2 separate regions of the Homo sapiens genome follow, and region 2 is linked to region 1. The links come from fine-mapping of genetic effects on gene expression. Tissue or cell type: neutrophils. Region 1 holds a variant in brackets; the other region holds the start of a gene. All regions are shown on one strand. Distances are from middle to middle.

Evidence for each region. PIP is the estimated chance that this variant, and not a neighbour inherited with it, causes the effect.
Region 2: SLIT3 starts here. The variant in region 1 is fine-mapped to the expression of SLIT3 in neutrophils (CEDAR, PIP 0.95).

Annotation. Positions count from the first base shown.
Region 1 is chr5:168,958,371-168,966,477 of GRCh38, reverse strand. All of the region lies in intron 4 of SLIT3 (slit guidance ligand 3), which reads left to right. Among named protein-coding and RNA genes, the nearest start is that of SLIT3-AS1, 51 kb to the left of the region's middle. The variant T/GTGTGTGTT (reference allele first, on the strand shown) is at 4,167.
Region 2 is chr5:169,296,891-169,304,997 of GRCh38, reverse strand. SLIT3 (slit guidance ligand 3) reads left to right here and starts at 3,859. Exons shown (of 36, transcript NM_003062.4): 1 at 3,859-4,485. The coding sequence starts at 4,289.

The DNA of each region.
Region 1 (8,107 bases):
ATGGATCCCTTTAGTTCTCTTTCAGTCTCATACCTCCTGGTGCCCTGACCCAGGCTGCCCCTTCAATTCCAAGCAAAGTCCCAAAGCTTTGCCTTTCTCTTATAAAAAATCATGCTGGCTTCTAAAATTAAAAAAAAAAAAAAATCCAGCGAACCTCTCAGACTCTTCTAGGCAAATGATTGAACTTCATCTGGGTCCCATTTGAGAAGAGCAGGCATATAAAAATCTACATACATGGCACAGATAAGATCGAGAGCTCACCTGGGGAGACTTACAAGTGTTTCACATTCAAAGCACATGTCTCTAATGCTAATCAGATAACTGTAGAGTTTAATTCTTACATCTGGCACAAAACTCTTGCTTTTATGTTGCCTATTTTTTCCCGGAAGGTAATAAAATTCACAATCGTATCTCATAATCAATATAGCATCTCTTCAGGCACTTCTGCACATTATGACTGCCTAAGCTTTGGCCTGCTTAGGTAAGAGAACCACACGCTGTTGCTTATTTTTCCTTGTTGAGATACTCAGCTCTGAGGTCTTGCCATCTTGTGGCTTAGAAAGCAGATCTTGTTTCTCCCACTAAACAGGGTAGGATGAAGTACAGAGAGAGAGAGCGTGCGCTGGCATGAGTTCACAATTGGAGAGGTTGACACCTCACAGTACATCCTAACTGGGATTGTTGAGCTATTTACCTAGAAACCAGAAGCACCAACTCAGAATCAAGTGGAAAGTTTGCCCTCGGAGAGACAGTAAACTTTTAGGTGTCATTGCTGATAAGCGATAGAGAAGAATTCTGTCTGTACTTAGGGTAGGTGCATAATAGCAGTTTGCTACACTGGTATGTCAAAGTGCTGTTGGCATGAAGTTCATTTTGGATGAGCAAAAGATACACCAGAAGAGACCCATGTGTGAGTAGGCAGAACTCATATTTTCCTAAACTAACTTAATATTGGTCAAAATGCAATGAAAACCACAAAGATGTATTTTGGGGCTATATGGGCAAAGTAATTTAGTATTTTATAACTTTCTCAAGTTCATATTTGAGAGTAACAAGAGCAAAGGTCCCATCAAAGCCTGAACGTTTGCTCCTTAGCTATTATGATTTCAAAACCCATCTTTCTGTTTTAGATCCACTTAAAGTGAGTATCTTTCCTTGTTGAAGTGAGCAAAGTCGCCTAAACAACATGTTTATCTCTCAAATGCTAGGAGAATAGGCTTATATCTTAAGTTCTAACCATTTTTTCTTCCAATAGATATTTATAATCATAGGAGTTTTCTCTTTCATAGTACAGTACCCTAAATGAAGGAGATCATTTCTACCCTTTGAGAGTGACCCAGGTGAGCTCAATTGTTCTGAGATGAACAAAGTCCCACATACAGCATAGACTGTGCTGAGACAAGCAAGGTGCCCAGGGTGCACCATTTAAGGAGGCCCTCTCTCTTTCAGGGATGTGAGTGCTTCCTTAGAGATGTGCCCTGGGTGAGTCTCAGACACGTCTCCCTAGTCTTGGTTCTGGTCCTGGTTGTGACCTGCAGACTGCTTTTGGACACATCAACCATACCTACTATCTTTTAGAGCCTTCTTCACTGGAAATGTATTAAGGGCCCTAGTGGGCATCAGGAAATGTATTTTGCAATGTGTGCAGATGATACAGAGCAGGCATGCCTTATGGCAAAGGGGTCCCTTTGCTTATCTCCAGAGGGTTCACCTACTAACAACTGAGATTGACTGCAATTTCTTTGATGCTCATCCTGGCTTATGTTATATCTTTGCCTCAGTTATAACATTTGGGCCGAAAGATTCAAAACAAATTCTATTAGGTGACCCGAAGGCTGAAAGGTTGACTGTGTTTAACTGGATTATTTTACATTTTCTCAGTTTGTGCTTTATTTATACGCAGTAAGTTTCACTCAATCCACCTGACTTCTTACCTTTTGTCCAGCTTGAAAAATGAAATGAGTTTGGGCTTTGGCACTATGTGTTTCATAGGCTCCTAATCTCTCTTTGTATGTTTTGTTGGCCAATAATACGTAAAACTATGCCCCAGGCTTTCTTGAAGTGCATGTAAATATCTGCCTCTCTCTTATCTCCCATGGTAGTAATTCATCCAGGAAACTTACTTCCAACAGGTTAGGTATTAAACTCTCCCTCACATAAATCCACATTGGATGTCTCTGATCAAATTATAATTTTCAAAGTATTCCATCACTATGTCCAGTTAAATCGTTCCTAATATTTTCCCATGACTGGGTGACTTTTTAAAAAATCTTGATTGTGCTACAGAAGTGTTTTCCCAAATGCTTTATTAAGACTTGCACAAATGCTCACCATTTATCAGCAGGAAGTGTTTGCCTGCTTGGAGGAAAATCAAACTAGTAAATTATTTTATTTTATTTGCTTTTATGTAGCCCCCTGCATTTCTGTCCATTTGGGCTGCCTTCTTTGAGCTTGCTATTATAACTAGGGACAACTCCTCGTGGCCTCATAAATCATAATCGTTGATATTTATTGCTCAGTAGGTCTTTTAAAATCCAGTTGGAGGGGTTCCCTCCTCCCTTAAAACTCTGCCTTTTATTTTGCTTAAGGCACTATGGTAGGAAACTGAAACATATTTTCCTGGTTTTTACTTAAACTAAATGTAAGGCAAGCCTTATATAAAGCCAACAAAAGAGAGCCTGAGGTTTGAAGATGAAGGTCAGCCTCTTGGTCATTGATTCGACAAGTTCCAACCTGGCATTTGCAAGGGTTTGTCTCGCAGCAACTGCCTATCAGACGCCTATGATGGTCCAGACTCTGAATCAGGTACCTAACACACTGCTAGACAAGCAAGGCTTAGTCTCTGCCCTCGTAGAGTTGACAGTCTAATCCAGGGGTCACTGATCTTTTTCTGTAACACAGCAGATAGTAAATATTTTAGGCTTAGAATAGTCCCTGTCACAACCACTCACCTTTGCCTTGTGTGGTGAAAGCAGCCATAGACACTCTGTAAAGAAATGAGCATGAGGTTAGGCACAGTGCCTCATGCCTGTAATCCCAGCACTTTGGGAGGCCAAGGCAGGCAGAATGCTTGAAGTCAGGAGTTCAAGACCAGCCTGGCCAACGTGGAGAAACCTTGTCTCTACTAAAAATACAAAAATCAGCTGGGTGTGATGGTGCATGCCTGTAATCCCAGCTACTCAGGAGGCTGAGGCAGGAGAATTGCTTGAACCCAGGAGATGGAGGTTGCAGTAGGCCAGGATTGCACCATTGCACTCCAGCCTGGCCAAACAGTGAGTGAGACTCCATTTCGAAAAGAAAAGAAATAAGCATGAGTGACTGCATTCCAGTAAAACTTTATTTACAAAAACAGGGAGTGGGATCAGATTGGCCCCGTAGGCCATAGTTCGCCAACCCCTCGCCAAATGAAATAAAGAAGCAAAAAGCAAAAGTAAGTAAGAAACTAAATGTAATAATGACCATGTATGATCATTGCCATAAAAGAAACAAATGGGGTGCTGAGATGGACAGTTTCGGGGAGACTTGCTTTGGATGGAGTGATGGGGAAGGAACGGCTGCTGTGAAGAGATGTGATTTCAGCTGAGCCCTGAGGGAGGGGAGCAATCAGCAGTGTGAAGAGTGGGAAGGAGAGGATTTTAGGCAATGAGAACCACAGGTTCAAAGGCCCCAAGGAGGGAAAGTGCTTAGTGAGTCTAAGAGCTAAAAGGCAGCCACTGCGCCCACCTTTCATCCCTCCCAGCTTTCTTCATCCATGAAGTGGGATGTGTGGGAGTGTTGGTCTACCCCAGAGTCTGGTCATAAGAGCGCCAGCTCAGGCTGCCCTGGGGGGCCTCAGTGGGACTCCAGGGTATGGATAATGACCTTTCCTTTGGCCAACCAGGGGAGATGGGGGTTGGGCTCACTTTTTTTTTTTCTTTTCTTTTCTTTCTTCTACTTCTTAAGCAAAGACCTTTCATCAGCACACGGAATATAGAAAGCTTGCTCGGAATGTGTCAGGCTAAGCAAAAACACATGGTCTGGTTATATTCTCCTAAAATAGAGCAAGAGAAAGGCGGGAAACAGAACAGCCTCCCATAAATCATTATTTGTCTGGGGAAAAAGTCTCTGACAGATATGTGGGGTACCACTGTGTGTGTGTGTATGTGTGTGTGTGTGTGTGTGTGTGT[T/GTGTGTGTT]GTGGGGTGGGGGGTGTGGTTTGATTTCCAAGGCAGAATTTCACTGTCTGATCCTGTCTGGAGGGCAGAATGCTTGTGCTCTCCACATCTGGAAGCTGCATCTCCAGTGTGACCAGCCACTTGGGAGATGCCCTGAGCCTGTGGGACATTGAAGCCCACTCCCACCCCCACCCATGGGTACAGAAGCTGCCCAGAGATGCTGGTGGAGGCAGGATTCCAGCAGGTAGATCACCAGGGAATCTAGATGGAATCCATAGTTCTGCCCTGCAAGAATGCTGCAATTCTGTACCGTGGAGGAGCCAACAGAATCACCAGGCTCTGTGACTCAGTCACAACACCCTGACCTGCCCCTGTCCATTCTCCATATCATACCCAGAGTGGTCTTTTCAAAGCACAGCTTTGACCAATTCTCTGTCTTTCACACATACACACACACACACACACACACACACATGCGTGCATGCATGCCTGAAATAGTATAGTATTGCTCTTAAGATAAACATTAAAGTTCCTACCATGGTACAGAAAATATATGTAGTTAGGCCCCGTGGCTCTTTCTTTTCCAGACTCCTCTTACCCTTTTCTGCAACCACACAGAGCTTTTTACCAATTCTACTAACCCATCCTGCTTTCTGCACCACAGAGCCTTTGCACATACTATTCTCTCTGCACAGAAGGTTCTGTTCCCTGGTACCGGTTCACCTTGTTCTCAGATCAAGCATCTGCCTTCCTCATTAGGTCAATTTTCTCTAAACTCCTATAACACTCACATTTTGTCTTCAACGTACTTATTGCTATTATAGTTTTATATTATTTGCTTGTATTATTAATGTTGGTTAATCTTTGATTAATATGGGCTCTCACCTCCCACTCTCACCCTGCTCATCAGTCTTGGTGCAAGAAACAGCATAGAGTCTGTCTACAGCTTTTAGTTTTGTTAATTTTATTTTCATTTTGTTATGTTTGTTCATCAGTGCACTCAGACCATGTCTGGTACATGGCTGAAATAAAATACATGTCTTTTGAATGAATGAGTGGATGTGCTGGCTATTTCTTCCTGCAGTGGGCACCTGTGTAGTCTTTAGTAATTATGTCCTGTTACCTAGGGGTTTCCTCTCTACCAGGGCTTTGATCCAGTCAAAGACGCAGTGGTCTCTCACTGGATATTTTAGCAGTGAAGGGGGAAAGGGGAGGTAAGGAATGGCCATGCCTTCTGGGAATGAAGATTTTCTGAGCTGGAGGGGATGTTAGAGATTATCCATGGACTCCTCATTACACAGGTGAGGAGATGGAGCTTTTTAAAGGTCAATGGCTGGTTAGATTACTAGCCATCTTTACAGTCCAAATTGTCAGTTCTTAGGACACAGGCTCTTGCCAAAAGCCTTGCTTCCTGGCCCCTAGCCTCAGTCCAAGATCTTTCCTGAGTACAATGCCCCCACTTTTATTCCTTAAGTAAGATTAGTGTTGGCAAACTAATAAAGCTCCAGCTTTAGGTTCTATGACTGCAAAACCCTGCTGGAGCCCCAGATAGCTTCCTTTCACCAATCATAACTCGGGTTTGTGTTGCTGGCCCTGCCTTAGAATCTTAGCATTATCTGGGACACTGAGGAAGCAGCCACCACTTCCTGTCATTGAGCTGTCATCCAACCCAAGAAGGTAACTTCGGCCAGGGTGGTTTCATTTTGGACTCACACTAATAAGAACATGCCTCCTGTCATGGAATGACATGAATGATCATGGCACTTTGGAGTCAAATAGGCCTGAGTTTGAATCCCAGCTCTGCCACTTAAATCTGTGTGATCTTAAACAATTTACTATAATCCTAGAGCCTGAGCTTCCTCTGCATGTAAAGGAGATATGGGATTGTACCTCGTTTGGTTGTTATGATGATTAATGAAACCAATCACACCAAACACTTAGAACAATTCCTGGCATATAGTAGGCATTTAATACATAGTTTAAATTCTTTCTTTTCAAAAACTTTGTAATTCAGAGAAGAGGCATGGCTCCTTAACTTCTGCCTTCTGGATTCTATGCACTCATCTATGTGTGCATACATTAACCAGAGAATCACCAAGCACCGACTATTACCTGCCATGCAGTACGCCAGGTACCATAGGTACAGAGGAGAATGAGTAAGACATGGCCCCTGCCCTCCTACAGTTTAAATCCAAAAGGCAAGACAGTCATTTGACCATGCTACATAGACAATATACAACAGAATACCTGAGACTCTCTGGAGCCACCAGCCATGTTATATGGCTAAAATTCAGGACTCTGGAGCCTGCCTGCCCATGACTGATTCCTGGCTCTGCCTCTTACTGCTGTGCCTCCTTGGGCAAGTTAACCTCCCTGAGCCTTCGTTCCCTTAGCGCTAAAGTGAGGATGATAGTAGTTCCTACCTCACAGGACTGTTAGAAGTGTCCAGGCACCTCACAGTGCCTGGCACCCTGTGAGAACTCGGTAAATGTTGGCCATTATCATCTGGGATGGCACGAAATGCCACAGCCAGGGTCCTGAATGTCTCAATTCAGCAAAGGAGAAGCAACTCCAAGCTGACTCCCAGCTTGGGAGGGAAGACAAAGAGTTGGGGCCTGGGAGCTACAGAAGAACTGAGCAGCTGTGTCCTCAAGCTCCAGACGCCCTCTTCCCACGTCACTTAGGATGGATTCCTGGCCCCCACACCTGAAGTTCTGTTCTGGAGAGACCACCTACTCCAGGCAGCCTGGAGGCGGGGCCTGTGACAGGTGGTTTCTCATAATGTGAACAACTGACACTGTGTTTGCTTTTTCTTCCACTTATAGATGCTTTATCCTGCACAGACGCAGACAATGAGGCACAATGGGCTCTCCAGGGTGGTTTTCACGTGTGGGATATTTTCTTATACAGGTTTGATCACACAGTCCTGTCAACACAGACAGGGCCTTTCTTTCCCCTGATGAGCTCCATCTGGCTTTGAACACCTGTCAGAACCTAGGATGTTATTCTTGGAAGAGACTTTAAGTTCTCTATAGCACAGGCATACCCCCTCACTTACAGATGGATAAACTGAGGCCCAGAGTGAGACATAACTTGCACAAAGTCACAAGTTGGCATCAGAGCCAGGATTAAAACCCAGGCTTTGAAGTTCTCAGATATGTGGTATTTCTAATTCGCCATTTCTACATGCTATTTCCATTACTGTGTATAAGGCTTAAGGCTGAAAAGCAACCACATTCTTTTCAAATCTCAGCCCAGATTGACTGACTGGAGTCGTCTGCCAGGAAGGGTGGCATGGCCACATTCAGCTCCTGAAGGAAAGAGCTGTCATCGATTAGCAATGCCTGCCATGCATAGGAGATGGGGGAGCCCCCTGTAGCACACATTCATTACCCTTGGCCAGGTGGAAGTAAAAGGGGTACCATACCACTCATGGTGGAGGTTCATTCATAAGCCATGGATAGGAAGGAGATCCAAGGGGTTAGGTTAGATTATGTATTGGGAGGGAGAAGGATGGAGTTTGGAGAAAAGAATGTCGGTACACATGACACCTTCTTCCACCACAGCACACACAAACCATTGAATTGCCCCTTGCAGGTGACCTTCTGATCTCTTCCCGAAACCCTCTTCTCTCTCTAGGGGGAAAAGTCTTCCCAATCTATATCAAAGAACTGTCATGGATTGTGTCAAAGATTGTGGTAGATGTGAAAGGTGGAAGTGTCATATGGTGATTAAGGGCATAGTCTGTGCAGGCAGAGAGTTCTGGGTTTGAACACCAGGTTTTCACTTGATAGTTGGCTTACATTATCATTTAATCTCTTTGGGGCTCAGCTTTCTATCTGTAAAGTGGGGATGACAATACATCTTTCACAGGTTTCTGTGAGGATTAAGAGAGAATGCATATAAAACCTGGAGGACAGTGGCTGACATATAATAAATTCTCAAAAAACTGGCAGCTGGAC
Region 2 (8,107 bases), 340 kb before region 1:
GATTACACAGGGTCACTATCTTCAAGAACCTAATAGTCTGGACCAACAAGTCCAGAGGATTCCGCTTCTAAACTGGAGGATTCGGCTGCTACATGGACTCTGGGGTAGACAGACAGGAGAGCAGGAAAGGATGTTCTGGGACGGGTATTGAGTGGATGTGGAGGAGTGGTGGCAGATGAGGTGGAAGAAGCAGAAAACAACTCCAGAGTTCAAAATTGCATTGTCAGGTCTGTATTTAAGATCCTTGGATCATCAGGGCAAAGGACGGATTGGTGAAGCAAAAAACTAAGAAATAAAGTTAGAGAAATTATGTGGGGGCCAATGAGCAATACCTATGCATGAAACTAGGATCTGAACAATAGCAGGAGAACCAGAGATGAAGAGGGGATACATTGAAGAGATGGTCATGGGGAAGAATGAACAGAACTGAAGAATTAAATGGCTGTGGTGTGTGAGAGAGGGAAAATTCTTTGAGCTGTTTTGACTTCTCAATACTCCCACCCACTTTTCAGCTAATAGCTTCTGGGTTTTCCTTTGAGAGAAGGACTCCTACCTGCCCAACTGAGTGCAGTCTCCATAAAACTGTCACCCATAGTTCTTGTCTTCTCTGGCCAAAAGGGTGATCACGTGACTCAAGTCAGGACCATCAATTGCTCCCTCCTGGGAATTTGGAAATCTTGAGCTTGGCACCTAGATCCTGCCTTGGGTCTTGTCTTTGTTGAAGCCTCCATCTTCATTTTTTTCTGTAGATTCTGTGTGCTATCCATGGCTTTCTTTAAAAGTCATTTTTTGGGGAAATTCAATAAGGTAAAGTTTTTTGTTTGTTCTGAGGAACAGAACTGCCTCCGACAGTGGGCAGAGAGTAGATCTGGAGAATTCATTGGAGAACGATGAGCACAAATGGTTAGTCTGGCTGGTTGGAAACAGAAAACCTCCGCTGACTGTGGTGGCCACATGAAGGGTAGTATCTCACACAGGGAAATATACACAGGTTGACGAGAAAGTTTGAGATGGGGTTTCTTGCAGGAATGGGTGAGTAGTTTGCTTTTGAGAAACACAGGTTGAGGAGAAAGTTTGAGATGGGGTTTCCTGCAGGAATGGGCGAGTAGTTTGCTTTTGAAAAGCCTATGGAAAAGTAAAGGGGAAAATTCAAAAGTGTCCAGGGACTTTTACGCAACTCTAAAAATGACACCACAGAGTGTAAAGCCACCTCTGGCCCTTGGACATAGAAAGTTCTAAACAATAGCCTGACCTCCTAGTGATTTACCCAGTCTTCTCCAAGGAGGGTAATTGCTCCATGGGGTGGCTACCGCCTTCTGCAGATGCCCCAGAATCAGCTGAGGAAGTGGACAGAGCCACATGTTCAGCATTGGAAGCCCGGAGTCCTGGCTCTGGTTATTTCACTAATTAGCTAGGTGACCCTACATAAATGCCCGCCTTTCTCTGAAACTCAGCTTCCTTGTTCGTAAAATACAAGAGTTGAACTATATTTGGGTTCTCAAAGTATGTTCCAAGAGAATTTGCAGTTTACATGAAAAGTGGTCCTCTATACTGAGAAACTGGGTTAAATAAGCCTTAAACAGGTTTCCTTACTGCAGGACTTCTCAGGAACTTAAAAACACTCATCTGTGATGCAATTCTCCAAGAGGGGTGAAGGTGAGTAGCATTTCTCAATCTGTCTTTGCCCAAGGAGACTTTTTTCTCCTCCATGATGAAACATGTGGAATCAGTAGTCATCAGAAGGCACTTGTAGAAATGTTGGATTAGGTGATTTCTAAGGCTGTACCAGCCCAAACACTCCATGATTCTGTGTATCCTGGTGTTCTGGGCCCCTCCTGTATTTCCCACTTGCCTCCTCCTTGGGGATGATTGACTCTGAAGGAAATCCTCACCATCTGTTCTAAGGGGCTTCTCCCAGGAAAAGTCACACTTGAATGCCTATAAAGTCCCTTAAAGATACAGTCTGGCTCATGAAACCCCCCTGAGCAGCTTAAATGGAAAACGCAGTCCCCCACTGCGCTCAGAGCACAGATCCAGGACCAGCCCGAAGGGATTGCAAAACATGCTCTAGCATGCATTTGGGAAAACAAAGAAAACCGTACTGTTTTCTGCTCCAGACAGTCTGAGACGCTTTGTGCCCTTGGGCCCTTGCCCGGTTCTCTCATCTGCCTCAGTCCTGGTACTAAATTGGTTCAAGGTTTGGAGGAAAGCTTCAGAGCAAAGGGATAAAAGGATGTTTAGAGTTCTTAAATACCGAAGTCACCCTGAAGACCGGAGCATAGACCCTCGCCAGCCACCAGGGGGCGATAACAACAGCATCTGTACAGAAAGCCGTTCCCAAGAATAACAGCAGTAAATTGCACCTAATGTGTTTATGAATGATGAAGGGACTCGAGTGTGTGTGTTTGAGTGAGTGTGCGTATGTGTGTGTTTGTGTGTACGCGCGCGCAAGTGGGTGCCCAAAGCTAAGACTTTGAAAATCTGCTAAGTATAATACAATAAAATCTACAACTCTACTATATATTCACAGGATGTGGTCAAGTAGTTGAAAGTTTCCTTGAAGGAAAATGAGGTAGAAGAAATCAGAATAGTATTCTTATGAAAGAAAAGAGAAGCGCTCTCAGGAGTATAGTTGTCACTATGTGAGTGTGTGTGCGAGCATGCATGTACACGTGTGTGTGATTGCCGGTGTATAAATGGGTGTGTGTGAGCCTGAGTATGTGAGAGTGTGTGCGTGGCTGTGAATACGTAGGCACCAGTGTGTGTGTATATATATGCAGGGCTCATTCAGGCCTTCTCAGTGTGAGGGGACCTCAAGGAAATCTGGGCAATACTTCCTCCAGTTCCTGCCCTTTCCTTTCAAACAAACAAACAAAATCATTCCTACAAGTATTTATGGAGCCTCTAACGCACACGCCCCTCCCCACTGGCATCTGGAAAAGCTCAGACCTAGCCAATTTAAAGCGGGCGCTGGAAGAAAGAAGGCGCTGGGGACAGAAGGGATGCCTCGTCTGCGAATGACTTTTGCAAAAACACGTTCTCTTCTGTGATGCTCCAAACAACCCAGGGAGGTGAGGCCAGGTAGGACTGTGGCCCCGGATTTGAGAAAACGAAGGCTCAGAGATGACACGATTGGCCCAGAGTCACCCAGTCAGGAAGCAGAAACCCGAGGATGGAACAAGGCATTGTCAATCCAGGGGTCCAAGTCGCTGCCATCACTACTTTTACCAGTCCACCAAGCGCTGGGTCTGGGCAAAGCAGGGCAAGTTTCCGGGTAAGGTTTGCCAGCAGTGACCTCAACAACATGGACCACGGTGTGTGTGTGTGTGTAGCTGTGGAGTACATTGGTGTCAACCAAGGCTCTTCAGGCAAAATTGTGGATCTCTGCCATGAGTACTAGGTGCGGTAGGGAAGCGGCTTCGTGGGCGACACTGCCATGGTTTGGCGTCCCTAGCAGCTGTGCGACCTCCAGCAAGTCGCTTCACTTCTCTGAGCTGTTTTCAGACGACCCCTTGGAAGATCGTGGACTTAAGTAAAGAATATGAGTAGAGTGCTCAGCTCAGTGCAAAAATTAAAAAAAAAAAAGTGTCAGGAGCCTTATCCGTCCTTGGATCTTAACAGTGAATGAGTTTCAGTGTTTCTTTCCAGGGGCCCTGCTGGCCGAGCCCCTTTCCTTCCCTGGTTCCTTCTCTCTCCCTCCTCTACTGCCTCCTCCCTCCAGGCTCTCGGTCGCTCCAGCAAAGTTCCCAACTTAGTCGACATGACGCGCGGCGCAGCCAATGGGAGGCGGAGTTGGCGTTTCTTGGTCGGGGGGGGGCCGGAGGGGTGGGCCCCGCGTCTCCGGTGTCTGCCGTGCTCACTGAATGGAGAGAGCGAGCGCCGGCCAGCTCACCCGGCCGCCCCGTGCCCCAGCCGCAGCCGCCGCGCTCCCCAGCCCAGCCCCAAGCCGGACCTCCCCGGGCGCCACGCCCCATTGCGCTCGCCCCAGGTCCCCAACCCGGCCCGCGGGCCAGCGGGGCCAGGGGGCGCTCCGCACCTGGGCACTCCCAGCGATGCGCAGCGGGGCAGCGCCGGCCCCGCCGATGGAGCTGCTGTTGCTGCCGCCGCCGCCGCCCGGAGCGCCCCGCTCCGCCCGCGCCCCGTGCGCCTGAGCACCGAGCTCGCCCCTCCTCCGCGCTAACTCCGCCGCCCGCTCCCCAGGCCGCCCGCGCTCCCCGCGCGCCTCCTCGGGCTCCACGCGTCTTGCCCCGCAGAGGCAGCCTCCTCCAGGAGCGGGGCCCTGCACACCATGGCCCCCGGGTGGGCAGGGGTCGGCGCCGCCGTGCGCGCCCGCCTGGCGCTGGCCTTGGCGCTGGCGAGCGTCCTGAGTGGGCCTCCAGCCGTCGCCTGCCCCACCAAGTGTACCTGCTCCGCTGCCAGCGTGGACTGCCACGGGCTGGGCCTCCGCGCGGTTCCTCGGGGCATCCCCCGCAACGCTGAGCGCCTGTGAGTACCCCTGCCCCACCCCACGCGGGCCACCCACCTGGGTCCCACCGAGGGGGCCCCAGGCGCCAGATCCGTCCTTTCCCCTCGGCCTCCCTGGATGCAGTCTCTATTCTCATCCCTTCCTGGATACGATCCCTCACTCTCCGAGCTGGGGGTCTGTAGGCTTGGTCAGATCTGGAAAGAGAGGTCTCGAAACCCCCAGCGATGGGCAAAGAGCAGTGCCTCTCCAGGGGTGAGGGTTCCAGACGCAGGGCCCGCTGACAGCTTCCAAGGAGTAGCTGAGGAGAGGCGAGGGGAGGCAAGAGCACTGCAGCCTCAAGGTCTTAGGGTGAGGGTCAGGGGTCTGCGCTCGTTAAAAAGGGGGGCGGGCGAAGGAGAAAGCTATAGGATGATGGGCCGTCAAGGCGCGGAGGCGGGAGAGAGGGCCCGAGACTGTTGACCTGCTTGGAGATCAGAATGGGCCAGCCGCTCTCTGGCTGCCCTTGCAAGGAAAGTTGAGAGTGTGGGTGAAGGTTTAACTTCTGAGGAACTGGACAGATTCAGAGTGGGTGCTCGCAAAACCCGCTCTGCCTGGAGCGCAGTCTGGGAGATGCCAAGTTGCAGCCCCGGGTGAATTTTTTATGGCTCGGTTATAAATGCCTCCCCGAACGAAGGGGCCGGAGAATGGAAATGCTGACAGCCCTTCAAATGAGACCGAGCGTTATAATCTTACAAACCGCACTCAGCCTCAGATCCTGGGCTTGGCAGCGAATGGAGAGGCGCTTGGAGAATGGGGTGGATTGACCCTAGTTTTAGCCCCAATTGTGCAACCAAATATTTACTTTTCATATGTCAACGTTTTGGAAACATTTATCATTTTGATCCTCGGACCAGATTCAAAACTTGGACTCCGGGGTGGGCTCCTCTTAGTCCGCAGTTGGGGTGGGGTAAGGGAGTGGGGGAGAAACGCTGGAGTGGGTGGGAAGCCTTACTGGGAACCCAGCCGAGAAGTGGGTGAGGGTTTGCTCTAGTGTGGTAGATTCCCTCCGTGTCTTGCTCTCCCTCTTCTCCCCTTCCTCATGTGCCTTAGGGGTAGGCGCCTGGATCTTCCACTCTGCTTTCTTGACTTCAGGCTGGAAGAGAGTAGTGATGACAAGCATTGTCCTAGAGTGTGTTATTCCTGCTAGTCACCTCCTATCACCCCACCTCCTCTTCTCTTCCACTTCTTTGTGCATCTCTGGGTGGAGACTCAGCAGAACTGTCTTCCTTATTCCTGGTGCTCTCTTTTTCCTTTGGCTCAGTACTTTTTTGTTTTTCCACAAGTGCAGTGATTGTTTTGTTGGGTTGAACCACAGAATCCTAAAGGGTGAGAGCCGAATCTTTATTAACACATGTCGAAAACCAGGCTTGGAAGTGTAAAATGACTTGCCCAAGAAAACACAGCAAGTTGACGGCAATAAAGGGGCTAGAATCCAGGTTTTCACACCTTAATTCAGACATTAAGTTAGTCCATAGGAGTGAAAAACTTGTTTTAGTGGTATTTTTAGATACCTATAACTTGTAAACTAAGTTCCCCTCCTCGTCACACCAGTGCTAGCCACATGAGTTAGTGAAATAATAATTATAGCTAATGTTTGATAAATGCTTTTCATGCCTTGATTTGTGTATATGTATTATCTCATTGAATCACTCCAACAGTCCTGTTAGTTACATAGGCAATGCTTATTACTCCCTTTCACAGTTAAGCCATCTTGTCATTTACTCAAGGTCGTGCAGCTAGTGAAGTGTTTGGATCCAAGCCTGACTGGTTCCTAAGCCCACAACCGTTATCACTCTCCTGGTCATCCTTGGAACAAGGGTCAGTTTGGGCCACGATCTATAAACAGACAGTCTTGGGAGGGTTCTGGCTGGGCTTGGATCTTAGAATAGGCTGCTGTTGCTTCTGCTTCTGGTATACCCTGCAAATGTTCAGCTCACTTTGATGTTAGGTCTGCTGCTTGGGGTCTCGCAACTACATCTTCCGCATCTTCAAAATCGTGCTCCATGTTTGGGAAACCAAGAAGAGTAAGTCCCTCTCCTCCTGGTGTGTAGGAAGTTTTCCAGAGCTGCAGGAACCGCACCCATGCCAGCATGCCACCGAGTCATCTTCCTTAGGGGATCTGTGCAGCTCAGGGCAACCCATCAGCTCTAGAACTGGAGAAACAGGACAGAGACTGGAGTCCTGGTCATTCCCAGAGGCCCCCTGCTGCAGTCGTTAATAGGCAGTGGCAGAGCAGGAGCTTCTTTGATGTCTCTGGTCTCTTCTGCCTCAGTTGTGGTCACTGGTGCCACTTTGGCCAGGGTGCATGGGGGTGCCGCGATGGTATCTCATTCTAGTCTCCTTCCTCCCTGGGAATGGGGGACAGTCTGTAGGAGCAAGCTGGGTCAGGTTCACTGCAGGGTTTCAGGGCAACCCACCAACAGTCCTTCACCACCAAAGTCCTGCACCACACTCTCTCTCAGCCAACTCAAATGTAACATTTCAATTCTGAAAACTCTTGGGGGATATTTGGCATTTTTACTCTCTGCCAAGGATTTCTTCAGAGGAATCACTCATTTATTCCTGCCTTCATTCATTCAACAAACATTACTTGAAGCCGGGCGCAGTGGCTCATGCCTGTTATCCCAGCACTTTGGGAGGCTGAGGTGAGAGGATCGCTTGAGCCTAGGAGTTTGAGAACAAACATGACTTGAACCTCTACTGCATTCCAGAAACTGTATATAGAACCATTGCAAATACAGAAGAAAACCAGCACTTCAATGTAAAGAATGTAAGCAAAAGATAGAAGGAAACTTGCTTTGGTGAGCCTTTTGAACTTCCCAGGGTTCATGTTGCCATGGGGCACGTTTTGTCAGCACTGTCATCAGATGCTCAGGACCTTCCTAAAATCCAGTTTTCTGATCTCAAAGGTTTAAATTGTGTTTTAAAACAAAGAAACTGCATTTTCTCCGTTCTCCATTCTTGGTACTCTGCCTCCCAAAAAGGCTTTGATGAAGGGATTTGTGTGTGTGTGTGTCTGTGTATATTGCTTCTCTGGATGTTTTTGACTTCTGAAACCTTGTGTTATGACATTAAGGAAAACCTGAGTGGGGATAATGTGCTCACCATTTGGACTTTGCTTCAGGCCTGGAATGGGGCCTCAATTGTTCATAATTAAGCCAGAATCAGAATTGGGGGGTCTGTGTTCCAAGATCTTCCCTATAATGTCAGAACATCACGCAGAAAAAGAAACTCTGTCTTTTATAAACTACTGACAATTTTTCCCCCTCCATGAGGAGGTGACACCCACAAGAAAGCTAAATAAATGCAGAGAAGAATTCAGTGTAATTTATTATCCGTGCAGCAAAGATAGAGGACGAGAGGAGAGGAAGTGGATGGCGGTGCCTGAAACCAAACATTTACCATGGAGCACAGAGTAAACAGATGTTGCACTTACCCTTCTGACTACAAAAGGAGCCCACAGATGTAATTCTTCTCCAACCACAATCTCAGCCTGGAAAAAGAGGAGGCAGATGAAAATGAACTCTCACACGGGGCCACTTCTCCCCATCTTGCCGTCCTTGTCTAGAGGCAGGCAGAGGCCCACTTCTCACTGCAGTGAGG